Regions from separate parts of the Homo sapiens genome. Here regions 2 and 3 are each linked to region 1. The links come from fine-mapping of genetic effects on gene expression. A gene starts in region 1. Each other region holds a variant in brackets. All regions are shown on one strand. Distances are from middle to middle.

What was found.
Region 2: its variant is fine-mapped to the expression of NCOA7 in monocytes (TOPMed, PIP above 0.99).
Region 3: its variant is fine-mapped to the expression of NCOA7 in whole blood (INTERVAL, PIP above 0.99). The same link has a PIP of 0.9 or more in monocytes and monocytes after interferon gamma.

Annotation. Positions count from the first base shown.
Region 1 is chr6:125,785,244-125,795,606 of GRCh38, reverse strand. It overlaps NCOA7 (nuclear receptor coactivator 7), which reads right to left and starts at 4,647. Exons shown (of 16, transcript NM_181782.5): 1 at 4,540-4,647. RefSeq lists enhancers at 4,065-4,164, 4,360-4,860, 4,861-5,361 and silencers at 4,385-5,224, 5,815-5,914.
Region 2 is chr6:125,837,392-125,847,754 of GRCh38, reverse strand. All of the region lies in intron 2 of NCOA7 (nuclear receptor coactivator 7), which reads right to left. Among named protein-coding and RNA genes, the nearest start is that of NCOA7-AS1, 24 kb to the right of the region's middle. The variant G/A (reference allele first, on the strand shown) is at 5,364.
Region 3 is chr6:125,809,212-125,819,574 of GRCh38, reverse strand. It overlaps NCOA7 (nuclear receptor coactivator 7), which reads right to left. Exons shown (of 16, transcript NM_181782.5): 2 at 4,171-4,284. The coding sequence starts at 4,220. NCOA7-AS1 (NCOA7 antisense RNA 1) reads left to right here and starts at 717. Exons shown (of 3, transcript NR_126386.1): 1 at 717-765. RefSeq lists an enhancer at 991-1,492. The variant G/C (reference allele first, on the strand shown) is at 4,828.

The DNA of each region.
Region 1 (10,363 bases):
CCAAGGCATCTAAGGAGCCAAACAGAGGCAGTGGGAATAGAACAGAGTGAATCAGAGACAGGTTAGGAGAGAAAATGAGCAGCTTCCATGTTCATATTTGCTTGCATATGCATAAAATGTCACTAGAAGATTCTCAGTTAACTAACACTGGTTACCTGTGGATTAGTGAAATGGGTGACAGGGGAATGAGGATGAGAGGGAGTACTTTCACTCTAGAGCCATGCGTACCTTTTGAACCATGAGGATACTACCTATTCTAAAAATAAATTTAAAAAAAGACATGAAGGTTATCAGAATGAGATGCCTCTATGTAAAAACCTGCCTAGGTCCCCCTCCAAACCCCCTCTTATGTTTTAAGTTGCACTTTTGAATTCAGATCATTTTTATGCCAAAGGCTACCAGACTGTACCAATGACTGACCCTTGAGAAAGGCCAATCTTTCTGCTTACTGTGGTGATAAATATATCAAGCCTAACTTATCATGTCGATGTAAATAATGAGTTACCTGGGTAAATTCAACCAACTTAACAATTAGGTGTCAAAACATCAGTATGAAGAATTAACTCCAGGAGCTCAATCTTTTAAATTTCATGGTAAATAAAAGAGGCTCAGAGAAGACTCTGATTTATTAAAACAAGGATAAATCACATGAATCACTGACGCGAAGGTCAGATTGTCGATTCACTCTGGTGAGTGTTATGCTAAGTTAGGCTAGCCCTTCAGCTAAAAATGACTTTATTCTATTGAAACTCCTGTTCAACCTATATAGCGTTTAAGGCAGGTACTCCAAATATAATTGACTTAAATTGAATGGCTTTATTAATTTCAAATTAGTAATGAGTGAATATAAATGTAAGAGTTTAAAAAAAAGTTTTGTAAAACTATGTAACATTGTTTTCCATTTGGCTAAGTTCAAATGTACTAAATTTGCAATTCTTGTTCAAAACATTTAATGTAACCCATTAAACTTGTTCATCAAAAACATACTGTGTCCAGAGATCAATTGTGCAATGGCTTCATTTATTTGGTTTTATGTTTTATAATCTGCCTTGTTCCACAAAGGATATGAGTCATCTTAAAAGAATATAATTCAATCAAATGGAAAAGTATAATTAGATAAACATCAGAATCAAGAAAAACAAGGTAGAACAGAAGCTCAAGACCATAGGAAAAGATAAAATATTGATATTAGGTTATGAATTTTTATATGATTATTAAAATTGAGTTGCAAATTTGTTCATTTCCTAGTTGCCAAGTTAGAAAGGGAAATATAATCAATGATTTGATTCTCATTTTGCATGATGAAAAGAACACACACAAACACACACACACAAGTTGTTCAGGGTAAGTAAAGCTTTTCTTTGGCATTTAAAGTTAAATGGAATTTCTTGCATGAGTCTTCAAACAGAAACTATAGAAAGTACCATGATCATAACCACATTTCGAAAGTAACATAATAGTAAGTTTCCTCTGACTGTATTAATAAAATCCCTCAGTGTGGGCATATGGGGGGGTGTTAAGGATGCAAAACAAGGTACCAAAGTACAGCTTCTGAAGATCTGGCTAGACTTCTGGTCTAACAGCTAGTATTGGAAGGGAATAGGTTGACGTCATGGCCTTTGTTCAGCCAACCCCCCGTAAACATCATTTCTCTCAATTAAGCTTCTGATCAAATTTAGCAACAGAAAATTCATATTCTCTGGCATGTACAGAAACAAATGCATTTTGTATCACTGTTGAGGGGAGACCAGTAGACAACAATCACTCTTTATGTATTCACTATATCTGAAATTCAAGGTCATACAAATTTACTTCTGTATATTTTTTTCTGCAATCAACAATTCTGATTTTAGCACAAGTGAATTGAGTGGATCCTGTTGAATTTAAACAAACAAAAAATTATGGGCTGGGATTTTAAAAACAATAGTAAATGGCATTTAGCAAGAAAGGAATAGAGGTTTCTAAAATACAGCCTTTAGGAAGATAAAGAGAGGAAATCCAGGTCTTGGATTGCATTCTGGTGGTGCTTGTGGGGGCGGAGTGCTGGGGGATCAGGAGGTAGGACCCAAAAGTGAGTCAACCAATCCCAGAGGCACTGCGCATTTGGTTGTAGGACACACAGAAGAGAAAAATACCTCTTCAAATCTGAGATTAGAGCTTTTATTTGACTGTGATTCCAAAGCCAAAGTAATAGCAGTTAAACTGAGCAGTTAAAGGCTCAACTCCTACTTGTAAAATGAACAAATAAGTGCTTATAAGTAACAAGGTAAAGAGAGCTTACTGTAACCAAAGGGGAGGGCTTTTTTGAAAAGCTTAAAGTGTGCAAGGAAGAGCCAGGTAAATTAATTGCTCAATACCCTGGGTTACAAATTTAAGAAGTGTAAAATGTAATTATCTTTATTACAGGAGGGAATTTTGGCTTTGTTTTAATAAATCATAACAAATTAATTTTTTTCATAAGTTCCCTCCCACTGTTGGTTCCTGCAGTCTTATTAACTTTTATAGGAAAGTTTTATTTCCTTATCCATCTAGGAAGAAAATAAGTAGGTTGGAGAAGCAATAGTAATAAAGTATGGCCTACCATATTGTGTAAAAATAAGTCATTTGAGTAATATGAAGTGAAGATGGTAAAGATGCATTAAAATGTCAGAAAGAAAACCTGGGAGCATGCCCAGATAATATTGTTAAGCAGAGACTGAAAGAAGTTCACACTGACTCATGAAATTCATGTGATGGAAAAAAGATGAAATCAAAACAGAAAATGTCATAGTGTAAAAATAAAGCAAATAAAGTTTGATGCAGTTAACCTTGTTTTTCTTTTTTTTTTTCAAAATGATATAACATTTTAAAGCAGGAAGACACTGTATCTTGCAAACCCTCATTTCACAATCCCCTGGCTGTCAAATTTGGAAACTGATGTGTTTCTATACCGAGGAGAAAACAGTTTAAATTGTGTATCTATATCACACATTTTGAATCATTTAAGAATCACAGACACTTCTACATGTTTTATTTCTACTTTTGCCTGTGATAAAAGACATGATAATTAGATCAAACCTGAAAAACTCAACTCTAAAATAAGTGAATACATCACTTATTAACCAAATCATTGTTTCCTCTGGCGTAACTTACAATTTTCTTTAAAACACGACTTTTACTTTTTAAATTGTGTTTGAGAGCACAGTTGAAGTTGGCATGATTACCAGTGAGACTGGAAATTTTGCAAGCTTAGACATGAAATGAACTTAAGAGTTGGGGAGAATTACCTCATAACCTTGATGACATATTACAGAAAGATAGCATATGGTCCTAAAGATGTCAGAATTGAAATATAAATGTTAAAATAACTGAGTTTGCCTATTTATACAAAGAGGCAATTTTTGAAATTCAATTAAATTTCACCGGCTACAGAACAATTCTGTGATTCTAAATTGTGGTTTTTAGATGAAAGCTTGAAACACAGTTCATTCATTCAACAAATAACTAATGGGTACTTATTCTGCATAAGATGCAGAAGATTACAGGATTTAAAAAAAAACAGATTCAAGATTCTGTCCTATTTGAGCTTATACTGAGTCACTTCTCCAAATCTCTATACCTAAGTGACTATAAAATTGGAGCTTACAGTGATGCATTTTTCAAAACTTTAAGCCTTATTGCTGAATATAAAATAAAAAATGATAGTCTGGGAAGAGGGAATCTTGCCAAAAGCTCTGATGTATAAACTTTACACCTAGAGGAGAAAAAAAGCATTAATACATAACCAGTTTCTGAGAAATACAGAGCATAACATCGAGTTGGAAGTTAGGCTGGGCACAAGGCTGCCTCTGCTGGCTGACCCGGTACATCTTTCCAGCAGAATCTCAACTCCCGACACCTGTATCAAAGTTGCCACTCTTAAAACACATCCCTTCACGTAAGCAGAGGCTCCTAAATACTCAGCACAACAATATCCCAGCCTCATCGATCTCCAGAATAATCTGACTTCTAGAAGGACCTTCTCTAAATTGGCCCTAACGTGTTGACGGTAAGGGTTTGCCCCATCGATTTTATATACCAACTAGCTAGCTCTGAAATACACAAAAATCCACAGCGACTTCTACATGCCACTAATAACCCTTTGCCTGTCTACATGTTTTGGCTAGAAAGATGGGAAGAACGCATCTGCTAATCCAGCCGGAAAAACACAGTGACATATTTCCACCTGAGCTGCTGAAAATCCAACGGTCTTCTCCCCAAATAAGCCCCATGCCAACCTGTCCTCCCCACTCTCGTACTGGCGCGCACCCCCACGAGCCCCCCAAGGGGTGGGCGGGGAAGGGTCAATCTCTCCTTCGCCCCCGCTCGGCCTCCCGAGCTCAAGCAGAGGTTTTCAGGTTCACAGGGGGCTACGCCCAGCGCCATTAGCACACCTCCGAGCGCTCCACCGAGCCCCCGGCGGGAGGCAAGTTTGGCCGGTCCTGGACCCTGCTCGCGGCCTCTCGGCGGCAGCATCAGCGGCGGGCGGCGGCGAGGGCTGGGCCCCGCCTCACCACCTACCTACAGGGCGGGGGCGCCGGCTCCTGGGGTCCGGGAGAAGGGGATCGGTCGCATGCATTTCTGGGAGCGGTGGCCTCTGCTGCTGGGCGCCGGGGAGCGCATCCTCTCGGCGGGTGGAAGGAGGGGTCAGGGGAGGACCGTACGCCGAGGAGGAGCAAGAGGAGGAGGCGGGAGCTCCGAGGCGCGCGCCCGCGGGGCCCCGCGTCCGGATCGGGTGTGCGCAGCCGCCGCAGTCGGGGTGTCTTAGGCCTCTTCCCACGCGCGACGCCTCGCCAGCCCCGCAGCTGCGCCCCCCGTCAGGGCATGGGCCGCTACGGGGTCCCGGGCCCGGCTGAAGGCGGGCAGTCACGGGTGGCGCGACGCTGTGCAGACGCCCGCCTCTAGCTCCTCCCGGCCAGTGGCGCGCGCTGCGCCTCACAGCGGTTGCGGGGGCCTGGGAGCTCGCGCCGGGCTCTGCCGCTCGGACTGCAGTTGCGGCATCCTCCCCGCCCCCCGCGACCTCCGAGCTGGGAGGCTGGGCACCCCGGCTACCCGCGGCTGCTGCAGCCTCCGCTGCCGCGATCCCGGCGGCTCCGCCCCGGAGAGCTGCGCGTGCGGCCTCCGCAGGCCTCGGCCCTTTGTGGCGCCTCCCGAGTGCGGGCGCCTTGCTGCCCCAGCGAACCGCCGCCTGGCAGCGGCACCTAGGAGGGTCCTCTTACCTCACCCCGGGCCGCTTCCCCCTTACAGTTGGCCCGCCTGGCCCCTACTCTTCGTGGGAAGTAAGGCTTTGACAGCAGAGCAGGAGTTAGAGCTTTTCCCCAGCTTTAAAGCCCTTTGACTTTCCTTCCAGCTCAGGACCGATGGCCACAATAAATTCATCCTGTGTCCCTTCTGGCGTTGCGTTTAACAGAGGGGCCCACCATCTCCTTCCCCCTCCCGTTCCCGGTACACCATCCTGGATGCTGCCAAATTGCAGTCATTACAGCAATAAGAACATAGCAGTTGGGCCCTCCAGCCGACTCTTGGCAGAGACTCGAGAGAACCTTGGAGGGGGAAGGTTTGCATCAGCTGCGGGGCCTGTGCCTGTGAGCTCCCCATCCCCAGTTGGGTGCTGTTCCCTCTGCGGTCCCATGACCAGCACTGCAACATGACTAGGAGGATCTGGCCGTGGAGTTCATTCACTCTTATACGCAGAAAAATATCCCAAGGAAGGGCCTGCAACTACTCTGTTAACAGTGTGTTACAGGCCTTCCACACAGATAAACTAGATAGCAGCCTCCTCTGGGTTGTTGACGCAGCTTAAGCTGTAATAACCTCTCTGGAAGGCGGAGCAAAGCGTTAACAGTGGTGGCTTTGGCATTTCAGCAGCAGGTGGTCATGTTATACTGTCTTGCAAATGTGGAATAATTGCCCAGTTTTGCACTAAGCACGTATTAATTTAGACGTCAGGTTTATATCTTTGGGATTTGAATGTAAAGATGTTGGATTTTTTTTTTCTGTAGCCATTGTGTTATTTGTAAATTGTTTAGCATTTAGTAAGGGAAAATTAGGTTCCTAAAGTATAAAGAGCTGATTGCATTGTATCAAAGGAACATGGTTTGAGATCTCCAGGGAAGCTGAGCTGCTCTCACAGTTCTTTGATGAGTGCTTTTATGATTTTGCAATCTAAGGTTATTGAAAATCAGGCAAAAGAAAAACATGTTCCCTGGCAAGGACAAATTGTGACTAAATAGCTAAGATTTTTTGAGATAGTTCTTTTAAGCAAATTGAAGGTTGGGTGTGAGGCCCTGTGGGAGCTGCACTGCGCTTGTCCAGGAAGCACCCAGTGGGGTGTGACTTGGCTGCTTCCTGACACTGGTTGATCTAGAGCCCCACTTTATTTTCAAAAGATAACTATTATTATTTATGATATTTTCCCAAACTTAGAATTACTTGATTATAGGAATATGTATGTACATATCTGATGTATAAGTAACACGTTGAAGTCACTTAGGAGAATTTGGCAGTTGCTTACTCTTTAACAAAATTTTTAAGTTTTGAATGTAGTTTCTGAAGGAAGTGTCCATTGACTTACAAGTTTTCCCTGTTTCTCATCCTTTTACTATCAAGAGGCCCCTGTTGTTTTTCTCTCTATGGACTCCATGTTTTGTAAATAAATTAAGCAGTGATGTTTTTATTAGACAAAAACCTATAACTGAGTATGAATTTTTAAAGTTGTGACCATCAATTATAAAACGTCAGTCTTCTGGCCAGGCGCAGTGGCTCACGCTTGTAATCCCAGCACTTTGGGAGGCCGAGGCGGGCGGATCACGAGGTCAAGAGATCGAGACCATCCTGGCCAACATGGTGAAACCGCATCTCTACTAAAAATACAAAAAAAAAAAAAAAAATTAGCTGGGTGTGGTGGGTCCTGTAGTCCCAGCTACTTGGGAGGCTGAGGCAGGAGATTCACTAGAAACCGGGATGCAGAGGTTGCAGCGAGCGGAGATTGCACCACTGCACTCCAGCCTGGTGACAGAGCGAAACTCCATCTCAAAAAAAAAAAAAAGGTCTTCCAAAGATATTGCAAGGAATGTAAGAATCCATCTTTATGAACTCCTCTAGGACTGCATGCTGTATCATATGCTTCTTATAACATTTTTATTATACTGAAAGTCCTGATATAATAAAGATTTCTGCTCCCCAGCTAAGGGAGTACAAACTCCTCCTAAAGATTCTTCACTTGTTCCTTTCCATTAACTGATTTACCTAAGCCTTGGCTTTATAGATAAATCGGAAGAAATGAAACTCTTCCTTGCATGTGTTGTCCAGTACTGTATGCCTTAGCTACTTGTAGCCGTTTAAATTTAAATTATGGCTAGACTGTGCTTTTGGATAGCACAAACTAGAACATTTTCATTATTGCAGAAAATCCTTTTGAACAGTGCTGCCCTAAATAGAAGGTCAAATTTTAATTGGGAGATAAGATATAATACATGAAATAATTTGGGAAATCTTAGTATACTACAGATCAAACCTCAGTAGAAAGTGTACTTCTTAAGAACATGGTAATCTTTAAGAATTCAGGCTCTGGCTTCAGACTACAGCTCCACCACGTGCTGACCTTGGGTAAACTACTTAACCTCAGTTGCTTTATCCGTAAAGGATATGCTTTATCCATAAAGAATGGTAACAGTACCAACTTTATAGGGTGGATATAGGAATTAAAGGAGATAATCCCAAGTGGTTCTTAAAGTCTAGAATGTGGCCATCAATCAAAGGTATTACTAGAATAATATACTTTATTATGATAAAGTTTTTAAAAATGGTATCCCTAACACTTTTCACTGTTCTTGGCTGCGGAAGTTACTTGGTAAATGCTGAATTAATGAAAAAATATAATACCACACTGATTTTATGGCTGTGAGGGCCACCTTTAAATATGAAAACTGGCCTTTCTCTGTTGAAGGGTATGGGCCATTGGAGGATAATTTAGGTGGATTTGTCATTTAACTTTTGCAGGAATAAACAACCTTTGTATGATGAGACTTTGGAGTAGATAAGAGAAGCAGAGATCCCTTCCTCTCTTAAAGGAAGAAGAGAGGGATCACTTCACTCCGCCATTTGTTTGTTTCGCTGAGCCTGTGGGAGGCAGCTGGATCTCTGGGTTCAGGCAACAGGATTTCTCCCAAGTGATTTTCTAGAGGGCTAAGGTAGGCGGGCTTAGAGAAACATTGCCAAACAGTGGCAATCCTGCAAATGTGTTCGGTATTTTTCTTACCTATCTATCTAAAGACAATTCTTGTAATGAAGAAGCATGATTAGTATTTCTGTTTTTGAATACAACACTAGTAATGTCTCATGAAACTAGAATTCTAAAAATATTGGCAAATATTGCTGTAACATTGCCCAAATGAAAGGCTCCTGAGTCTCTGGTTGATCTAGAGCTCTACTGTATTTTCTTTTCTGTTTTTTTTTTTTTTTCTTCCAGACAGGGTCTCATTAGGTCACCCAGGCTAGAGTGCAACCTCCAACTCCCAGCTCCATTGATCTTCCCACCTCAGCCTCCCAAGTAGCTGGGACTACAGTCATGTACCACCACACCCGGCTAATTTTTGTATTTTTTGTAGAGATGGAGTTTCGCCATGTTGCCCAGGCTGGTCCCAAACTCCTAGGCTCAAGCAATCCATCTGCCTCAGTCTGCCAAAGTGCTGGGACTACAGACATGAGCCCCTGCGCCTGGCCTATTTTCACACCTGTAATCCCAGCACTTTGGGAGGCCGAGGAGGGTGGATCACTTGAGGTCAGGAGTTTGAGACAAGCCTGGCCAACACGATGAAACTCTGTCTCTACTAAAAATACAAAACTTAGCTGGGTATGGTGGCACATGCCTGTATCCCACCTACTTGGGAGGCTGAGGCAGGAGAATCACTTGAACCCGAGAGGGAGAGGTTGCGCTGCGCTCAGATCGCGCTTATGCACTCCAGCCTGGGCGACGGAGCCGGACTTCATCTCAAAAAAAAAAAAAAAAAAAAAGACAATGATTATTGTGTATGATATTTTGTCCCAAATTTAGAATTACTTGATTATAGGAATGTATATGTACATATGTGATGTATAAATAACAGGATGAAGTCACTTAGGAGAATTTGGGAGTTGCTTACTCTTTAACAAAATTTGTAAGTTTTGAGTGTAGTTTCAAAACTGGTTAAGTAATGACCTTGGAGCTATTGAAAATATTGAAATGTCTTTGGAAGGTCTCTCAAAAGCTGTGGGAGAGGAGTTTTATGCATTAAGTGATGAGCTTAGGCTACTAGCACCAAGAAAATTCACTCTTTAGTGAACCTATCCTTCTTTCTCTAGCGCAGAGAGAAACACCTCTTTTCATACACTTACTTGACTCAGGCCGGTTGGGACACAGGAGGCAAATACTGATGATCATGTGTGGAGGGATACGAGTAGCCATCCTGCAACTAAAGAGGCAGAAGAGAGTTTATTATTTAATAGTATTTAAGGCAGTGGCTCATTTTCACAAACTGGGGTCATTTGTCTACTGGTTAATTATGATAATATCTTGAGTTTTGAGAAAAATGTAAGTGTCCTTTTGTGGATAGACCTATGTTCAGTGTTTCATTTGGCTTGTTATAAATCTGAAGAGGAGTTAGAAATCACCTTTTTGTGGCGTCTTTGTGGCGTCTACCAGAGTGTACTGAGAAAGAAATATTGCTGTATATAGACATGGATTGTTGTCCGCATAGCTGTCATCATGTCATACTTATGGCTGATTATTTAGAGTTAGCCCAATAAATTTTTCCTTTTCTTTTATTCACAGCTAATTTAAAAATATCTGCTTTTGAATAATTTCCTGTTGTCTTATTTCTTCTACGAATAGTCTGTTCAGTAGCTTGAGAATTCATTACATAGTTTTTACACTTTCTGAAAAACATATTCAAATAAGCTGCTACAACATTGGTGCTAAAATATAATTTAAAATTTTGAAATGAATCCCTAAAAAAGTGACATTATGTGGTGGTGGTTTGTATTACTGGGTAAAAGAAATTTACAGTGATTATGCTAATAGGGGTTTTTTTCAAGGGAAATAATTACAGATTAATAAATAGTTGTAAAAAATGTACAGGGAAGTCCTGTGTTTCCTCCTAGTTTTCTCCCCATGATTAATGTCTTACAAAATTACATTACAATATCAAAACTAGGAAATTGACATTGGTACAATCTTGAGAGCTTATTCAGATCTCACCAGTTTTTTTTCTTGAGACAGAGTCTCACTCTGTTGCCGAGGCTGGAGCGCAGTGGCACCGTGTTAGCTCACTGCAACCGCCATCTCCTGGGTTTGAGCAATTCTCCT
Region 2 (10,363 bases), 52 kb before region 1:
GAAGTCCTTGCCCATGCCTCTGTCCTGAATGGCATTGCCTAGGTTTTCTTCTAGGGTTTTTATGGTTTTAGGTCTGACATTTAAGTCTTTAATCCACCTTGAATTAATTTTTGTATAAGGTGTAAGGAAGGGATCCAGTTTCAGCTTTCTACATATTAGCCACACATAATTTAAAATGTACTGAACTACAGACTGCTTTAATTAGTATTAAATTCACAGTTATATATGACTCTGTTCTTAATTTTAAAATTTGGGATCCATGTGTTTTTGAAAAATGCACACTTTTGAAAAAGACGTAAATACCTTGTATGGCATTGCTCAATGTGGTAGCCACCAGCCAGTCACCGATAGTTACTACATTTAGTTAAAATTGAACTTAAAATTATTCACTTGTAAGAAATACATTTCTAGACTCATGTCCTAGTGGTTACTCTATTGGACAACACACAATACAGAATACTTCCAGCATCACAGAAAGTACTAGACAATATTGATCTAGAGCTATAGTTAGTCCTATTTGCAAGAGATTAGAGAGAAGGCTAAAGATACAGTATTTAAAATGTAACAAGTATATGCAGAAAATATGTGTACAAGGGTACATACACACACACACAAATACTTTTTATTATGTTCTCATTTGTACATTTTGAATTTTATACCATGTACAATTACATATTAAAAATATTTTAAGTAGTCTTTGAAATCTCTCTCCTACTATAATAATCTAACACACAAATATTGTCAAATTTTTTAAACTGAATTTTACTTTTCAAAAACTTATGACAAGCTTTAAACAGCTTTCTTCTAACAGGAACTACTAAGTTGACTAAGGAACCAGGCACCATGCTATGTACTTCACAAATATTAGCCTATCCTCACAAAAGCCCAATGAGGTAGGGAGTTTTATCTCTATTTTACAGATAAGAAAAGGAAGGCTGAGAAAAACTAGGGCCATTTCCCAAGGTCACAGGGCACAGTTTAGTTGTGGAGCGGGAATTCACAAGCCTAGGTTACAGCCAACTGCCACAGGGCCTCCCCGAAGCCCCTCTAAATGTGGCTATGGCATATATGTAAACGTCAACTTTAAAATAAAATCCAGTGGACTCTGAAAATTCTACAAACTATGTGGGGGCCTGAAAATTTAGTGGGCTTCAATGGATTGTGCACTCACAGAAAGACTGGAACACAGATTTGGGTTCTGGGCTTGGCTTTCTCTGTAATCAGCCCTGCAACCTGCATTGGAAATATGATAAACCCCCTGGGACTTCTAAGTAAACAAAAGCAAGAGGCTAACATGATTTTCAAGGTCCTGTCTGGCTCTAATAGTTTGCCCTTGGCGGAGAAGAGTAGGAAATGTGTTAAAGTTGTTTTGATTAAAAAAAAAAAAAAAAAATTTTTTTTTCTTTTTTATATCCAAACTAAACCATCCCAAGGGTCTTGCACTTCCCTATGTTTTTTCTAAGTCTCACATTTGATTACATTTTCCTTCCACTGCAGAATTTCTAGCCCTGGAAAAGTCCAGAAGCCAAGACAGTCAGAAGCCCATTCCTCTACAAAGGCTATTAAAAGCAAAAATAAAAACAAACAAAAAAACAACCAAAACCAAACCAAGAACAACAACAAAACACTGCTCTATAATTTGGGGCTAATAGCTCCAGGAAGAAAACTAGAAAATATCAAAATTGACCAGCCATGAGAACAGACCCATGAAAGTCTTCTTTCATACAAACTTTCTCCTTAAAATCGCCTCTGTAGGGAAATAGAGTACTAATATAAAATATGTAGCTATAGCATTATTTCATGAAAAAAAGATGTAAAACAGTATTGCAGCATGACTCCATTTTTGTGGAAAAAACAACAACAAAAAAAGCAAAATCCCTCAAGACCAAATATACACATAGATATGGATATATACAGGTTCGGTGGATGTATGAGAAAACGGTTGGTCAATGAGTGGGGAGAGAAGAACTTGCACTTTTTTGTTTTTTTGAGACAGAGTCTTGCTCTGTCACCAGGCTGGAGGGCAGTGGCGCGATCTTGGCTCACTGCAACCTCCGACTCCCTGGTTCACACGATTCTCCTGCTGAGTAGCTGGGATTGCAGGCATGCAGCACCACCATGCCCAGCTAATTTTTGTATTTTTAGTAGAGATGGGGTTTCACCATGTTGACCAGGATGGTCTCTACTTCCTGAGCTCGTGATCTGCCCACATCAGCCTCCCAAAATGCTGGGATTACAGGCATGAGCCACCGTGCCCAGCCAAGAACTTTTACTTTATAGGTATGTAATGTGGTGGTGTTGAATCTTTTGTACGGTAAGCATATATTACTTTTGTAATTATAAGGTTAACAAACAACAACAAAATTAAATATCTGCAGCTATGGCAACATTTTGCTACCTCTTGTTTAGTGGTTCATTCTTTCTCCTGAGTCCAGCTAGCTTAGTAAATTGCTGGACTGCAATCCCACATCACTTTTTTTTTAAATCAGATAGAGCTGGTCTGCCTCCCTCCAGGGACCTTCTCTTGGTTCTTTTCTTGGCTGTTCTGGCTGCAGCCTTGTCATTGCATTGTTCTGACCTTCAGGGCCTAGGCTGTTTTTTCCTGGTCGTCTAATTCTGACTTCTGCCACCTCTGACAATGGAACGAGCTCAGTCTTTGGGCAGAAACGTTTGTGTTTGAATCGTCTTGTACTTTGGATGCACATCCTTTGGCGAGTTACCAAATCTAAGCCTCAGGTTTGTTGTCCTTGACATAAAAATAATAGCCTCCAATGGGTTTTTAATGGTGATTAAAGCAAATGGTACAGAGAAAGCTTACTTTACTATTAAACACAACCTGTGCCTGGTTTCCAGGAAGAGCTTAATAAACAAAAGTTACTAATTTGTTGTGCTGCTGCTGTTATTCTTACTTGGGGATTTCAAAGAATCCAAGTAAATGAGAGAACATATAAAGCACAACATATTTAACACAAAAAAGAAGGTATGTGACAAATGCCAGGTATTAATATATGTTCATGTCCTTTTTCTCACTCTACATAAATATTAATTGTATTTAACTCTATGAATTTAGTCATCAATACAAAGCCACTTATTATTTCTAGAAGAACATCACTCTTTGAACTCCATTTCATTTTGTCATTTCATAGTTTTCCATTTCCACTGAAAATCCCCACTTATGAGCCATTATATGCCAAATTAAGTCAAACTTAAAGGCAAAGGGAGAAAAACAGTTAAAACAACAACTCACTTGAAGAAAATTTTCTCTTGGAATTCTGGCCAAATAAAAACAAAAGATTTAAGAGTAATCACTGGAAAAACCTGTGGATGTTCCTGATTCTAGTGTAACCCATGGAGACATGCATTCTTTTTTTCCTTTTTTCTAATCGTGATAATGAGATTCTTCCCACTGCTAAAACTGAAATTCATCAGTTAAAACGAAAATACTCCGGCTTCAAAGAACCAATACAGTTAGGAAAAGAGATTCTTTGGCTTTGTGTTCAATAACTAGCAATATATCCTTCAGATGGGTACACATACACACAACAGCATTTCCCCTAGCCTCAAAGAACAACCACATTCTAATAAAGACAGATAAACAGAATGCCAATCAGGGGAAACCACAACAATTCAATTTTCCTTTTCTAGGATTTCCTTGTACTGTTAAAACAGTGGTGGGTCAGCAGGTCTTAGAAGACCCCGGTAACCAAAGTGTGGGGGCCAGAAATGGCCAAAACCAAATTCTCTCTCAGAGAAGCCTTGGGGTGGGACATTTCAGAAAACCTTATAAGCATCCCCCAGTACCAGGATCAAAATGACACTGCTGCAAAATGGATGCACACTGTGTAGAATGTCTACATTGTATTATTTATAAAACAAAACAGCCCTTTGTTGAATGTACACATTGCCCCATGTGAGAATTTGGTTCCCTTTTCTAGAAGTCAGAATGCTGAGTCACGGCCTAAAAATGGTTTGGAGAAATTGATGGTGCAGACAATGGTAATATATATCTCATCTATAAATTAAGGAAGGGAACCAGAAAAGGGAACTCACTCCAGGTAATAAGAGAATTGTGTTGTGCTATAAGTCAACAAAAAGGCCTACAAATATATTTAAATATTAGGAATTTTACTGCTTATCAACCAAGAATAAGCTGACAAACACCGCAACTCAGAAGTTAATCAAATTTGGCAAAGAGAAATTTAAAGAAAGTATTTGGAAGTTGTTTATTCTCTTTTGCTTTACATTGATATTATGCACGTAGCTTATTTAACATAGTTAAATTGACTGGATGTATTAATTCCCTATGGCTGCTGTACCAAATTACCACACACTTGGTAACTTAACACACATTTATTCTCTTACAGTTCTGGAGGTCAGAAGTCTAAAATCAGACTCACCAGGCTGAAATCAAGGCGTCCACAGGGCCATCCTCCCCATTAGAGGTTCTTTTCTTGCTTTTTCCAGCTTCTAGAGCTATATTACTGGTAGCCCCTTCCTCCATTTTTCAAAGCCAGCTGCATGGCACACTGCTTTCTCTGCAGTCAAACCTCCCTCTTATATGGACACTTAGGATTGCATATAGGACCCATTCAGACAATCCAAGTTAATGTCCCTATATCAAGGCCCTTAATCACATCTGCAAGATCTCTTTGGCCATAAAAGGTAACATTCTCAGGTACCAGGGATTAGGAACTGGCTATCTTTGGGGGTCACTATTCAGCCTACCACACTGGCTAACTTAGCTTTTATGTTACAAATAATTGCAAACTGAGCATCATATCACATTAGTGTCTTAGTGTCTATGTCTAAATCATTACTATGGCTATTCAATGTATTGTCTATGATACTTGAAAAAATTCACTACTGGCAGTGAGTAGCAATAAACATATTTCTAAAGCAAAAGCAAAAGGTTTATTCAAGACTACCCTGAAATCTGCAATTAGAATATTACAGATGTGAATTTTTTATTTATGGTGGATGACTTCAAAACAGCCTCTTGGAAGTGGGAGTATTAGAAGGAAAATTTTAACAGGTAGGATTTCTAAAGAGTTAAGTCTCATTTTCATATCTAATTACTTAGATCTGCATTGAATCAGTTCATCATTGTTTATAATCCCTTACACAAAGCTGTTTATAATCCCTTACAAAGCCAAGAAAGTCTCCCAAAATATTTTTTTATTTTGCTAGAATTCCTTAGTAAAGGAAACCTTTTTAAATTATTTTTTTAGAAATGCTTTTTACTCAAAATGAACTGTATTCTCTGACTACTCAATGAATCTTATAGAAAGCAGCATTGGCATATATTTTCGTGACACATATATTTTGCTACAACAGCAATATATTGCAGTGACATAATTCTGGAA[G/A]AACAGCAAAATGTTGTTTTCTTGAAGACATTTTAGTCAAACACAAAGCATACTATCTTGAAAAATCTCAAGCAAGCACAAACTCAATGATGCCAGCGACTCTGTCATCCAATTTTAACTGACTTTCCCGTTAACTACTTAAACTGTAGAAATATTGAGGGAAATAAGGGCTAAAATACAGAATCCTGAAACGAATCAGTTTAGTATATAAACTAATACTCTACTGAAAGCCTCGTAAGGGAAACATAGTTTATGATCAGCAGAAATGGCCTGATGACAGAAAACACTTATAAGTAGCATAAAATTAGAATATGTTCTAGCTTAACTTCTCTCTCCTCTCAACTTTAAAAAATAAACTCTTATATTAATCTGACATTGCTTTTGAATAATTTTAGACATACGTACCCTTTTATGATAATATACTTTCATTGTCATAAACTAGAAGTGACCTCATAAATCATTCTGTCATTACAGGTACTTTCAGAAAGAATAATCTAATATCAGGTATGAAATTTTAAAACTTATTTTGGCAGATGCTCTCAATTTAGTTGGTTTACATCCAACATGTCCATTCAACATCTTAGAGGTATTTTTTCCAATTGCTACATGCTGGCTACTGCTTGGGAAGTGATGTTGCTCAAAAACAGAATTTCTGGGGTGGTAGACTGGTAGTACCTACTCTAAATTTTTTTCCTTCTAAAGTTAGTGCAGAACTCTGAGTCTGGATAATTCATTCACATGTAAAGGCAAACCCAAAATAGATTTTGAAGAAAAATCTTGGCCTTGCTTTCATCTTTCTGAGGGTGCATTTCCATGACAATGACCATCCAATCACAAGACGGTCTTGATCACGCTCTTAAAAAAAAATCCAACAATGGCCACCTCTCAAGTTACCAGTTTGATTTTAACCAACCACAGGTTGTGGTATAACAAAAAATAAATAAATATAATCATGCCTTGCTAAACGACAGGGATACATTCTGAGAAACGTGTCATTAGGTGATTTTGTCATTATACAAACATTATAGAATATACTTACTACAAACCCACATAGAATAGCCTATGACACACCTAGGCTATATGGTAGAACCCATTGCTACTAGGCTACAAAACTGTACAGCATGTTACTGTACTGAATCCTGTAGGCAGTTGTAACCAGTAAGTATTTGTGTATCTAAACAGGTGTAAAAACATAAAAGGTAGGCCAGGCGCGGTGGCTCACACCTGTAATCCCAGCACTTTGGGAAGCCGAGGCAGTGGATCTCTAGGTCAGGAGTTCAAGACCAGCCTGGCCAACAAAGTGAAATCCTGTCTCTACTAAAACTACAAAAATTAGCTGGGCACAGTGGCAGGTGCCTGTAATCCCAGCTACTCGGGAGGCTCAGGCAGGAGAATCATTTGAACCTGGGTGGCAGAGGTTGCAGTGAGCCAAGTTCATGCCACTGCACTCCAGCCTGGGTGACAGATTGAGACTCTGTCTCAAAAAAAAAAAAAAAAAAAAAAAAAAAAAAAAAAAAAAAAAACCAACCAAACAAAAAAAACCATAAAAGGTAAAATAAAAATATGGTATTAAAAAATGGTGTCCAGGCACGATGACTCAAGCCTGTAATCCCAGCACTTTGGGAGGCCAAAGCAGAAGAACTGCTTGAGCCCAGGAGTTTCAAGACCAGCCTAGAAAGACCCTGTCTCTACAATTTTCTTTTTTTTTTATTTAGCCAGGCATGGTGGCATCCTGAGTAGTTCCAGCTACTCAGAAGGCTGTGGTGGGAGGACCACCTGAGCCTGGGAGGTTTGAGGCTACAGTGAGCTATGATCATGCCACTGCACTCCATCTGGGGCAACAGAGCAAGACCCTGTCTCAAAAAGAAAAGAAAAAATGATATACCTGTATAGGGTCCTTACCATGTATGGTTGCTGCTCTTGGGGAGTCAGAGAGTGAGTGGTGAGTAAATGTGCTTACTGTGCTCTACTGCAGACTTTCTAAACACTGTATACTTAGGCTGCACTAAATTTATATAATTTTTTCCCTCATTCAATAATAAACTACCTTAGCTTACTATAACTTTTTTACTTTATCAGTTTTTAAATAACTTTTTGATATTTAGCTAAAAATATAAACACATTGTATAGCATACAAAAATATTTTCTTTATATGCTTATTCTATAAGCTTTTTTCTATTTCTAAAATTTTTAACTTTTTTGTTTTACTTTTTAAACTTGTCAAAAGCTAAGACATAAACACAGAGGGTCTACACAGGGTCAGGAACATCAACGTCATTGTCTTCCACCTCCACATCCTGTCCCACTGGAAGTTCTCAGGGGCAATAACACACAGGGAAGTATCCTCTCCTATGATAACAATGCCTTTTTCTGGAACACCTCCTGAAAGACCTGCCTGAGGCTGTTCTGTTTAGCTTTTTTTTTTTAATAATCAGAAAACACTCTAAAATAATAATAACTAGTGTAGTAAATACATAAACCAGTAACACAGTCATTTATCATCATTATCAAGTATTATGTACCGTAAATAATTGTATGTACTATGCTTTTCCACAGCTGGCAGTACAGTGGGTTTGTTTACACCAGCATCACTGAGTAATGTGTTGCACTATGACGGTGACAATGTTACTGGATGATAGAATTTGTTAGCCCCATCATAATCTTATGGAACCACCATCATAAATGAGGCCAGTGGCTTATGTGGAACATTACTGTATTTGGTCTTTGTCCCCAGGTTCCTGGCACAGACTTCCTAAAACACTGGAATCTCGTGAGTGATAAAGAGCGTCTTTTGTATTCTCATGAGATGACTCAAAGCTGCGGAGGGAGGGAGGTGCCTCGAGAGCTTCTAGATGGGGTCTAGCCACCAGAAAGATCCAGCCAGGATTAAAAGGTTGGAACTTTCAGCCCCACCCGACAGTCCACTTCTCAAGAGGGGAGGGGACAGCAGATAGAGTTAAATCACTAAGGCCTAGGCCTCGCGCAGTGGCTGACTCTTGTAATCCCAGCACTTTGTGAGGCTGAGGTTGGACTGATTACTTGAATCAGGAGTTCAAGACCAGCCTAGCCAAAATGGTGAAACCCCATCTCTACTAAAAATACAAAAATTATCCAGGCGTGGTGGCATGCACCTGCAGTCCCAGCTACTTGGGAGGCTGAGGCAGGAGAATTGCTTGAACCCGGGAGGCAGAGGTTGCAGTGAGCTGAGATTGCTCCACTGCACTCTAGCCTGGGTGACAGAGTGATACTCTGTCTCAAAAACAAACAAACAAACAAACAAAAATCACCAAGGGCTAATGATTTAATCAATCATGCATAGGTAATGAACCTCCAAGAAAAACCCTTAAATGTCGAAGTTCTGAAAGTTTCCAGGGTGATGAACACACTATGCGTCTGCGAAGGTGGTGCACCCAGAGAGGGCATGGAAGCTTGTTGGCACCACCCCTGAATCCCCCAACCTACCACCCCTGAGTCCCCCATACCTTGCCCTCTGCCTCTCTTCCATTGGGCTGTTCCTGAGTTATATCCTTTATAATAAACTGGTTAAGTGTAAGAAAAGTGTTTTCCTGAGTCCCCTGCGCAGTTCTAGTGAACTCTCAAACCTGAGGAGGCGGTCATGGGAAACCCCAAATTTGCAGTCAAGGTGGACAAAAGTACAGGTGGTCTGGGGACCTGGGACTTACAACAGAGCTCTTAAATCTGTGGAGTCTGAGGCTAACTCTGAGAAGTTAGTGTCAAAATTGAATGGAATTGTTGGACACTCAACTGGTGTTGGAGAACCAGAGAACACCTCTAGTGAAGGAAATAAAAGCATTTCACTCCAGAATATGCTTCTTTGACATGTTTTGAGATGGCTGTTCAGAGGGCTTGCAAACAGAAGTACCCCTGCAAAGCTGTCTTTCATGGGGGAGTTTTGCATCAATCCAGCCAGGTCTTCCCTTGTCCTGATCTAGGAAAGATTTAACTGAGAGTCGGACACCTTTAAAGATCTGAAAGAAGCATTTACCACCTATCCTCTCTGATGGCTGCCACCTATCAGGTTTCATCTGTATAACAAGACTACCTTCACAAGCCAGGCCTCCTCCTCTTCTTTCCTTCCCCATAATCTATCTTGCCACTGTAATCTTGATTTTTGGCCATGCCCTGAGCCCCATTCTTTCCGTGACCTCAAGATGGTATAGAAGCTTCTGCACCCCATTGTAGGCTTGGGTAAACACTTCATGGTCTCCCAAACACTTGGGTTCTCCTCATGAATGTTAAAAAAAAATTGTATGCTTCTCTCTTATTAATCTGCCTTTTATGAGTTCATTTTTCAGTGAAGCTTCAGAGGGTGAAGGGGAAGTTTTTCCTTAGCCCCTAGAGAGTTAAGGACTAGGAAGGGCTTTGTTATCAAAGGGACTGGCGTGTGCTCTACTCATTAAGAGGAAGAAATATGGGAAGGAGTCCCTTTTTAACACCGACCATGAAGTAGTTCTGCATCAGTCATACAACTAAGAGCAGCATGCAATTTACTGTCCCATTTTTCATGCCAATTTATATGTTCCCTGGTCTGGACTTTCCATTTTTAAATAGTATATCGTAATTTCTTTAATAAGTGCAATGATGAGAAAATATAATAGCATATGGATGATCTCAGCCTCCTTCCTCATGCTGCCTCCTAAGGGAACTCTGGGTTTGTTTCCTTTTCCTGGTTCTGAGCTTATGAACACAGGTGTGGGAAATGAATTAGGGGGAGAAGTGGAAAAAGAAATATAGTGAGAGAAGAAATAGAAGAAAATAAACCTAAAAGGAAAGAAGGGGAAAAGGTAAGGACATGAGGAGATACACTGACTGGATATGGGAAGGGTTTCAAAAAGGAGAAAGAGTTTGGGGAAGTAGCTGAGAGACATGTAAAAGGTCAGAGAGATGGAGAAAGAGGATTTTAAAGTTTTATCAAATATATGGCATTTATTACCCCCTTGGATGTTTTCTGAAAGGTGAAGTAAATATTTATTTTCAAT
Region 3 (10,363 bases), 24 kb before region 1:
ACTAATTTTGCATATATAAATTATTTGCAAAACCATTTGTGAAAAAGTTTCACAAATCATTCAATCTAGATTTAACAACTGTTATAAAACTATCCTGAAGCACCTGAAAACCAGTTGGACCAGGGTCAGAAAATCCAAAAAATTCATCAGGTCTTATCCAGAATTACTCTATCTAGTAGCAGTATTAATCCACCCCTCTATTTAGAGTTACACAGGCATATTTCAAGATAAATTATAAGAAAGGAAAGACTGGGTGACCCTCAAATCACTAATTTCAATCCAAAATTATTAAAATAGGGTATTTTAAACTCTATTTTGATGTTAAAGAGCGAAACGTCAACAAAACAGGTTTGGCAAAGGACTATTTATCAAACACAGTCACACAACGATTATGAAACCACATGATAAGATAGCACACAAAGAAAACATTGGCTATTTAACTACTCAGGAGGAAAAACTAGGTGTTCCTAGTTTTTCCTAGGTGGAAGGGGGAAGCAGGCTAAAAAGCAGTTTTTAGGGTTTCAGATATGTAATTGTGGCAGCAGGCACAGCATCAGGGTAAATCTTCCTTTTGACTTCCTCAGAACACCAGTTGAGATTTATGTAAGGTGGTATAATTTAGTTTAGAGAAAACTGAGATTGCATCAGTTTGGCCTCACCCTTGGCCTGACATTTTATCCTTCTCTCCAGAGATCTTGCTTGGACTGCCCTTAAGTACGCTGCTCCAGAGAACTCTGCTCTACATTGTCAGAAACCAGCTTTCAAGTAAGTTCTGTTGCTAGTTCCACATGGTAATTCCACAGTTAAGTCAGAAGGCATTTGAAAAGATGTATAACTTTGGATGGCTCTTTTCTGATTATAGGCTGAAGGGGGTTCTTTTCTCTTTGGTTTGCCTTTTGCTTTTAATAGCTTGACCATTTCTGGCTTCCACTGCATTGTAAGAGCTAAACTACAGGTTTGTCAGTCAGTGTTTCTCTCTCTGTCTCTTTCTCTCTCTCCCTGCTCCTACCCCCTCTTCTCTCCATTCTCCTCTCTCCATCTCTCTCATTTCCTAGTTACAAATCATGTTGTCTTACTGTCTTAAGAGCATCACTGATTTCATCCTTGTGCCACTGTCCCTATGCTCCCAAGATCACATTTCAGCATTTTAGGATACGTTTTTTGTTTCATTTTTAGAATACTTTTCAGAAGAGGTCATGATAAGCAAGACAATTTTACATTTCTGAGTTGAAAAAACTGTGCTGCTCTTCCAGAACAGTTTTGGTTTGTATTCTCAGTTTCAGGGGCTCCCCTGACTCTACATTTTAGGAACAAGAAGAGGTTAACATTGAGCAGGTTGTTCATGAACCGGCAGTTACCTTTACTACAGGAATCACTTTGGATTCAGGCTGAGAAGGCACTATAGCTCTTAAAATCACTATGTAGGGCAAGTGAAGAAGAAAGAAAAGAAAGAAGAAGAAAGTAAGGAGGAGGAGGAAGGAGGAGGTGGGAGAAAGAAGGAAGGGGGAGAAGCGGGAAGGGGGAGGAGGAAGAAGAGGAGGAAGAGGAGCAGGAAGAGGAGCAGGAAGAAAGGGAGGAGGTGAGGAAGGGAGACGGGGAGGAAGGGGAGGAGAAGCATGACCACCATTTTGACCTAAACTCATATCTTATCCACAAATAAATTCAAAATGGATCACAGACTTAAATATAAAACATAATGCTATAAAATTTTCAGAAAAGAAAAACAGGAGAGAATCTTCAGAACATACAGCTAGGCAAAGAGATCTTAGAATTCAGACCAAAAGCACAATTCATAAAAGGAGAAACTGATAAATTGAACCACATCAAAATTAAAACCTTTTGCTCTGCAACTCTGTTAACTGGATGAAAAGACAAACTACAGTCCGGGAGAAAATATTTGCAAATCACATATCCAACAAAAGACTAGAATGTGTACAATTCAACAGTAAAAACCTAAACAATTCAATTAGAAAATGGGCAAAAGATAGGAAAGGAGATGCCACTAAAGAAGATACACTATGGCTAATAATAAGCACATGAAAATGTTAAACTTCACTAACCATTAAGGAAATACAAATTAAAACCATAATGAGATATCACTACATACTTATCAGAATAGCTAAGATAAAAATAAAAAATATTGACACCACCAAATGACAATGCAGACAAACTGGATTACTCAGACTTTGCTGATGGGAATGTCAAATGTTACAACCATTCCAGAAAAGAGTATTGCACTTTTTTATAAAACTAAAAATACACTTATCTTTTGACCCAGCAATTGCACTCTCAGACAATTATCTCAGGGAAATGAAAACTCATGCTCATACAAAAACTTGTACATAAATGATTGTAGCATCTAGCATCTTTGTTCATAAATAGCCCAAACTGGAAACAACCTAAATGCCCTTCAATGGGTAAATGACTAAAAAGCTGTGATTCATCCATACTATGGAATGCTACTGTGCAATAAAAAGGAACAAACTATCGATACATGCAACAGCTTTGAGGGATGTCAAGGGAGTAATGCTGAAGGGAAGAAAAAGCTAAATGCCAAAGGTTACATACTATATGATTCCATTCACCTAGTATTCTTGAAATGACAAATTATAGTGGTTGTCAGAGGAGGCAGGCAGATGGAAGGAGTGAGTAGGGATACAAAAAGGTAGCATGTGGGATCCTTTTAATGCAACTGTTCTGTATCTTGACTGATGGTGACCACAGAAATCTACATGTGATATAACTGCATGGAACTAAATACACACAAACACACATACAATGAATGCTCTGAATAAGGCTGGTGGATTGTATCAATATGAATTTCCTAGTTGTGATACTGTACTATGGATAAAGAATACAGGGTATCTATTACTCCTTACAACTAACTACATGTGAATCTAAAATTATCTCAAAATAAAAACTTTGGAGATCTTATTTATTCTAAATATCCTATCTTTCTGGTGCCTCATCCATTAGATGCCTGATGTCTTCCTTCCCTAATCTGGTTACTCTCTGTAGTCATAATAGCAGAAAATATTTTACTACAATTGGTAGTTTAACTTGTGCTTCCCCAAAACCTTATTCATGATTTACTATTCCTAACTGGAGCATGCCTTTTGGAGATGGCCTTATGTTTAATACTGACTCTTATGCTGCATGAAATGGACAAAATATTTTCTGAGTCTTAGTTGCATCACTGGTAAAATGGAGATAAATTAACCGATGTCATAGATTTATTTTGAAGGCAATTAAAATAATAAGTAAAACACTCAGTACATAGTAGGTCCTTAAATTGTTTCTGTCCTTTTCCCATTATCAACCTAAAATCTAGCTTAATTACTAGATAAAAACATCAACAACAAACTTTGGTTTTGGCTCCAAGGCTCATGTTTAGAAAATAATAAATGCATCTCTAATGAGCACAGCCTGGGGACTGGGGATGGAATGAGGCTAAATTCAGTTCTTAACATGTATTTCAATTTAGGAGAAACATAATGTTTTTAAGCCTATGTTCTCTGAGTCTGAAAACATTCTGGCTTATCAAAATGTTTTACAAATGTTTAGCATATAATTCATTTTATTATGTTTAGTGAGTGCCACATAGACATTTAAATCTGTAAATGGTAACCAATCATATACTACATTACTTCTATTCAGATATCAACAAATTTATTTATGTTGGACAAGTTCCAGCCTTAAAAATGACTCTGATTCAAAAATATAATTTCACCCATTTCACCTACCTACAAAAATATTTCTTAGTAATAGACTCCCCACAAGGTGATAAGCTTTAAATGTGTCAGAGATTTTCAGTTATAGTCCAACCTATTAAGCTACAGAACAGTAGGAACAAAGCACTTAGGATTTAAAATTCAAGGTAGGTTGCTAAACATGGGATTTGGAGCAATTTGCAGGTCAGAGCATGACAGCTGGATTCGCTGAGCAACACTGGCCTGAGAGAAGTGTCAAAGCTAGAAAGAGAAGAACCAAATGTTACACTCCTCTAATATGAATAAAATGGATGAAGCAAAGTATAGTTTACTTCTCCTGGTTACCTGCTCTATTTATGAACAAGCACAAAACACAAAATGCGAAGTAATACTTGAGGACAAAGTCCCCTCAAATATTTCTTTAAAGTACTGATAACAATTTTGTAAAATGAATGCTTACCGAGCAAAATAACTTTGTTTCCGTTCCTTCTTCTCTTCCTTGGTATCCATAATACACAATCAAAAGTGCAAAGTATTTGAAAAAGTCCCTCTTTTTAATCAGTGAGTCGTAACCCTGTAAGAAAAGATAACAAAGCAACTGTAAACTTAAAAGTTTACACTGGCCAATGTGAAAAATAAAATGGAGTAGAACTACATGGACTAAAACAAATGAAAAATAAACTTTAACCAGGAAACAGTCACATGAGTCAAATATGAAATGCAAATGTCCATGGGAGAAACTACAATCAGAATGGAGATGTTAAACTATAAAGCAAAACCTGATGGAAAACCAAACTGCAGTATTTTCCTCACAACTAACAACTATTTTAAAACATGCCAAAATAAAAACCTTCACTGACTTTGGAAGATTGTAGCCTAACTATGTAGATGCTAATTATTTAAAAAAAAATTGAACTCATAATCACTCTTCCCAAGCAATTAATAAGGCATATGTCTCAGATAATTATGTAAAATGGCTCACTTAGGTGTTTTACAAGAATGTTTTTTTAAAAAAATAAAAATAACTTCAGCACTCTATTTTATTTTCGGAAACATGCCAGCAAGTACATCCCACTTGAGCAAATGTGGAAATGAAAGTACAAAGACACAGGAAGCT[G/C]TTCCTCAGCATGGCTTTAAACCCTTGCGTCTCCCTCTTCTCCACCCCTGCGACCCTCACCCACGCTTGCCAGCAGTGGCTTAAGCCTATAATATAAAAAAAGGTTGTCTCCAGATCAAGCTTCCTCAAATACCACTTTTATCATGCCACTCCCCTGCTCAAAAATTTCCAATTGTCTACTTATTCAGTGATTCACCAGTCTAAATTTCTGCAGAGCACTAACATTCCTAAAATTTGTCCTTTCACCCTGAAGCAATAGTTTGTTCACCTATCAAATTTAAATCAAAAAAAGCAGGCTGTGCGGTGGCTCACACCTGTAATCCCAGCACTTTGGGAGGCCGAGGCAGGCAGAACACTTGAGATTGGTAGTTTGAGACCGGCCTGGCCAACAGGGTGAAACCACATCTCTACCAAAAATACCAAAAATTAGACAGGCATGGTGGTGCACGCCTGCAGTCCCAGCTACTCCGGAGGTTGAGGCGCGAGAATCGCTTGAACTCAGGAGGCAGAGGTTGCAGTGAGCCAAGATGGCACCACCGCACTCCAGCCTGGGTAACAAAGGGAGACTCTGTCTCAAAAAAAAATTAGTAAATATAAATAAATAAAGCAAAGTGTATTCACAATCAAAATTATTTACTAATTCATTTCAATTCAATAAACAAATTAATCCACAATACATACTACATGAAAGGGAGTGTGATAAGTCCCAGAGGTCAAAGATAAAGACATGATATTTGCTCTAACAGTATATATTGTCTTTCAGGAGAGACACTTAGGATTTCAAGACAATGTGATATGTACTGCTGAAAAATAGACCTCAGGAATACTTAATTAGCTAAATTTAGCCATTTTCTAATGTATATTTTCAAAATATCATTAAAAAAACATATATATAATTTCTATTTGCCAATTAAAAACAAATAACACTTAACACTATGCAAGGCCCACCCCAGGTATCCTGAGCACACACTAAGGTTGTAGGTTAAGAATGGATTTCCGGCCAGGCGCAGGGGCTCACACCTGTAATCCCAGCACTTTGGGAGGCCGAGGTGGGTGGATCACCTGAGGTCAGGAGTTCGGGACCAGCCTGGCCAACATAGTGAAACCCCATCTCTCTAAAAATACAAAAATTAGCCGGGCGTGGTGGCAGGTGCCTGTAATCCCAGCACTTGGGAGGCTGAGGCAGGAGAATCATTTGAACCTGGGAGGCGGAGGTTGCAGTGAGCCGAGACCACTCCATTGCACTCCAGCCTGGGCAACAAGAGCAAAACTCCGTCTAAAAAAAAAAAAAAAAAAAATTGCATTTCCCAGGTAAAGGGTACGAGCAAGCAGGTTTCAATTGAACAAAAGCAAGAAGACAAAATTGTTCCCTTCTGTTCCAGGGTAAAGTGAGCTGAGGATGAAGACATGGGCAGGATCTGGGTCACGGAAAGCCTTGTATGCTGCTCTAAGGAGCTTGGACTTAATCCTAGCTGGCTATGTGCAGCCCACCCCCTTCACTGCACCTTGTCAGAGGCCATCAATTGCTCATGCTGAACCCAGCGGCAGCATTTGCAGAGCCATTACCAAATCCATCAGAGCTGGTCCATGAGATAAAACTAATTTTCTCATCCCCAAGGTACATGGAAGGGCGCCACCAGAGGGTTCTCCATGAGGGAGTGTAGCATAATCAGACGGCAGAGGTAGAGGATTGACGTGAGAGGATTTAAGGACAGGGTGAAGTAGATTCATTAAAAAGAAATTACAGTCAAACTAATTGAGGGAGGAGCACCCAAAACTAGGCAGCAGTAGTTGACATAGAAAGAGGAGGGATGGACTCAAGAAATACTTAGGAGACTGATGAGTTGACATTTGATGAGTCATGCAGTGTAGATAACAAGGAAAGTAAGGAATGAAGGATGTCCTCCAAGTTTCTGCTTCAGGAACTGCGTGGGTTACGGCACCGAAGATCTAGTACAATATACATGAAAAGGGCAGGCTGCATGTAGGACAGGGGAGCAGAAGGAGGTAAGAAATCGGTTGTGGACATTGTGCCTTTGAGACGGCTATGGGATAGTGGAGTTGGAGACATTCACCAGACGTTTGATTACACTGAAAGCACAGAAGGGCAGTGAAGGCTAGAGGAAAGGAATTAGAAATTATCAGCATATGCTTGTGGTTAGGAAGAAAAGGAGAAAAAACAATATGATGATGAGATCACCTTGGAAGCCTGACAACTATTCATTCAGCCCTGTACAGAAACATGGGAGTACACAGTCTCAGCTCTTACTAGTTTATCTTCACATCCCTGACTTGGGCTTCACCCTCAAAGAGTTTTCCATCCAGTCAGGAAAATATGACTGTGCAGATAACTAAACTGTAGGGTAGTAACTTGGGGCTGTCCAATGAATAATACTAAGTAAGAATCCAAAAGATGTGAAGTTCAATTCTGCTTGAGGTGATAAACCTTTCAGAGTGGTTAGGATTTCAATGGGTAAAGTGGTTAGGATTTCAATTCCAGAAAGTAGGAATGCCAGAGCAAAGGGATAGAAGTGAAAGGGGCTAGGCACACTCAGGCAAGGAAAGCATGGCTACCAGGTACGGAAAGGGAACTAATCTTGATGCCTGCCTACCAACAGCCATTTACTTCAACATATTATCCCTATGTTATCTTTTTATCTTTCAACCACACTATGATTTAGATGTCCTTATTTCCATTAAACTGATGCTGAGAGGTACTAATTAATTTCCTTAATTCAACAGCACTAGCTGTGGTGCGGCAGCAATTTAAATCCAGTCTGGTATACACTCCAGTGTCTTTCAATAACCTTTGGAGCCAGAAAGCATTTGGAGATGAGCTAGAAAAAGTAGTCCGGAGTCAACAACATCCAATGCTGCAGCACAGAATTCGCAAGTTAAGGCACATGTACCTAGCCACTGGGACAGGGAGGTCATTGAGGACCTCCAACGGGACTGCATTAGTGACGTATTGGGAGTGGAAGCCATGCTACCATGAGTTGGGGTAGTTAGTACTCATTCAAGAATTCGAGTGCAAGGAGAAAGAAGAAAAAGGAAAGATGGCGGCTGAGTGTCTAACTCTCATGAGCTCAGTTTCACACTGTGGTTTGAACCCCCTGGGCGTCTCCCCAACTCTGCACCTTTATCCTCACTCTTTCCTCAGGCACGAGGCAACCTTGCTAGGCTCCTCCTTCTGACAAGGCCCAATTCTACTTCAAAGCCTTCCCTGACCACTTGTGTGCGCTCCTCTCCCCTAAAGAGCTTATTTCATATATCACCTATAACTTACTGCAAGGCACTTAATCATATACTGTGTGACAACAGCATTTCAATTAGTCTCCTCGCCCCAACCATAAATTCCTTCAAGTCAAATAACACCAAGTTTCACTTTTACTATACTTCCCTAAATAACTGGCACATAAGTAGGCAGAAAATCCATATAAAAGCTAAGCAAGGAGGTAAATTAATCCAGGACTGGGGATAACGTCAATTATATGGCAGACCAATACAAATCCAAAAATTCCTCCCAAATTAAGAATTACTTAGGGATGGAGGATGGAGTCTCATGCCAGCCTCCCTCAGACTCCAGGAAAGATCAGAATCCTAGGCTCTCTGCCCTGCCCTGGGTCAGGTGGTTTATTTTAAAGTTCATCTCCTACATGTTACAAAAGCAATGATTTCTATTAAATTTCCAGTCATGAATAAAAATTAAGTTACAGCAATCTAATTGGAAAATTTTTATACTGCAAGATGAGCCAGAAACTAATATTTGGTTCAAGTAGAAAAATATTAATGAAAATATGCACAAGAGAAAAAGATTAAATGATCCAATAGTTGACATCTGGTGCTGCTGTGTCTGATTACAACCAGTAAGGCTTTTTTTATTTTTCAATATCCTATTAGGTAAATGAAAAATATGCTAATCTTTGGTTTAAGTTTCTGGAAATTTTTGTATTCCCTAAACATGATAGATGCAGTTCTTACAGGTTTAGACACACCAACAGATTAACCAGAAGGAGCTCAGTAGAGAATGCTATAAAAATGATTTGCACAGAACACCACACTGCAGCCTTCATGCTTCAGTGAAGAACCAGAGCTCCTTAAATCAGTCTCTAATGGGAACTACATTTTCCATTATAAGTGGTCATAATGGGCTTCTTAAAAGCCCTTCATTCATTTAATGTTGACTTTCCTTCATTCAATACACTCTAGACTCATCTAAATGCTGACTTCTAAGAGTCTCCTGCATTTATGGTGTATTGCAGACCAAAAAGAATTTCACGAGAAAGCACAAGATGAATCTTCCATCTAAATATTTTTTTTTGCAATCTTAAATCAGGATAGTCAATTAAACTTAAATCCAGTTCATTATTCAAATAAAAATAGCACATAAAAATCCTTACCTCAAAAGAGCTGTGATGAAGACAAAGTATTTTTTGAATCATCAGAAAAGTGTTCCTTGTTTGTACACATGGCACCATTTAAAAGAACAGAACCAGCAGAGACCCCTTAACTACACCAAACTGACCCACACAGCTGTGGGTCACACAGCTGGAGGTCCTCAATGACCTCCCTGTCCCAGTGGCTAGGTACATGTGTCTTAACTTGCAAATTCTGTGCTGCAGCACTGGATGTTGTTGACTCCGGACTACTTTTTCTAGCTCATCCCCAAATGCTTTCTGGCTCCAAAGGTTATTGAAAGACACTGGAGTGTACACCAGACTGGATTTAAATAACTGCCGTACCACAGCTAGTGCTGTTGAATTCAGGAAATTAATTAATACCTCTCAGCCTGTCAGCTGTGGGTCACACAGCTGTGGACCCACATAGCAAAGCATGGCTTTTTGGATTCACCTCCAACACACTGCAGTTCCTTGAATATTCAAGTATAACAAGTCAGGACTAGAAAAACAGCAGTATATCCATGAGGCCCATCAGCTGTTTTCCCAACAACATGTTTCTTAATATACAAATGAAATGATGTCAGGAGTACACATTGAGGCTTGGTCACACTGTGTTTGGTCACGTAAGGAACAGATCAAAATGGACCTTTCTATGCAGGCATTTCCTCCTAGAAAATAGTTATATTTATACCAAAATATGACAGGTGTTCAGTCTCTCAAAGCCACACTGTCATCTAAACAAAGCAAAAATATTCAAATTTCAATGTTACACAAGGTCAGAAATTTGAACACTCCCTGTAACAGTAGAGAAACCTGGGAAGGACGCAGAACCAGATACAAACGTGTGCCACAAACTTACAAGGGTACCCAGACGCAGTGGCTCATGCCTATATTCCCAGCACTTTGGGAGGCTGAAGCAGGTGGAAGGCTTGAGGTCAGGAGTTCAAGACCAGCCTATCCAACATGGCAAAACTCCATCTCTACTAAAAACACAAAAAGTAGCCAGACGTGGTGGCACATGCCTGGTGTCCCAGCTACGCAGGTAGCTGAGGCACGAGATCAACCTGAGAGGCGGAGGTTGCAGTGAGCCTAGATTGCACCACTGCACTCCAGCCTGGGCGTCAGAGAGAGACTCT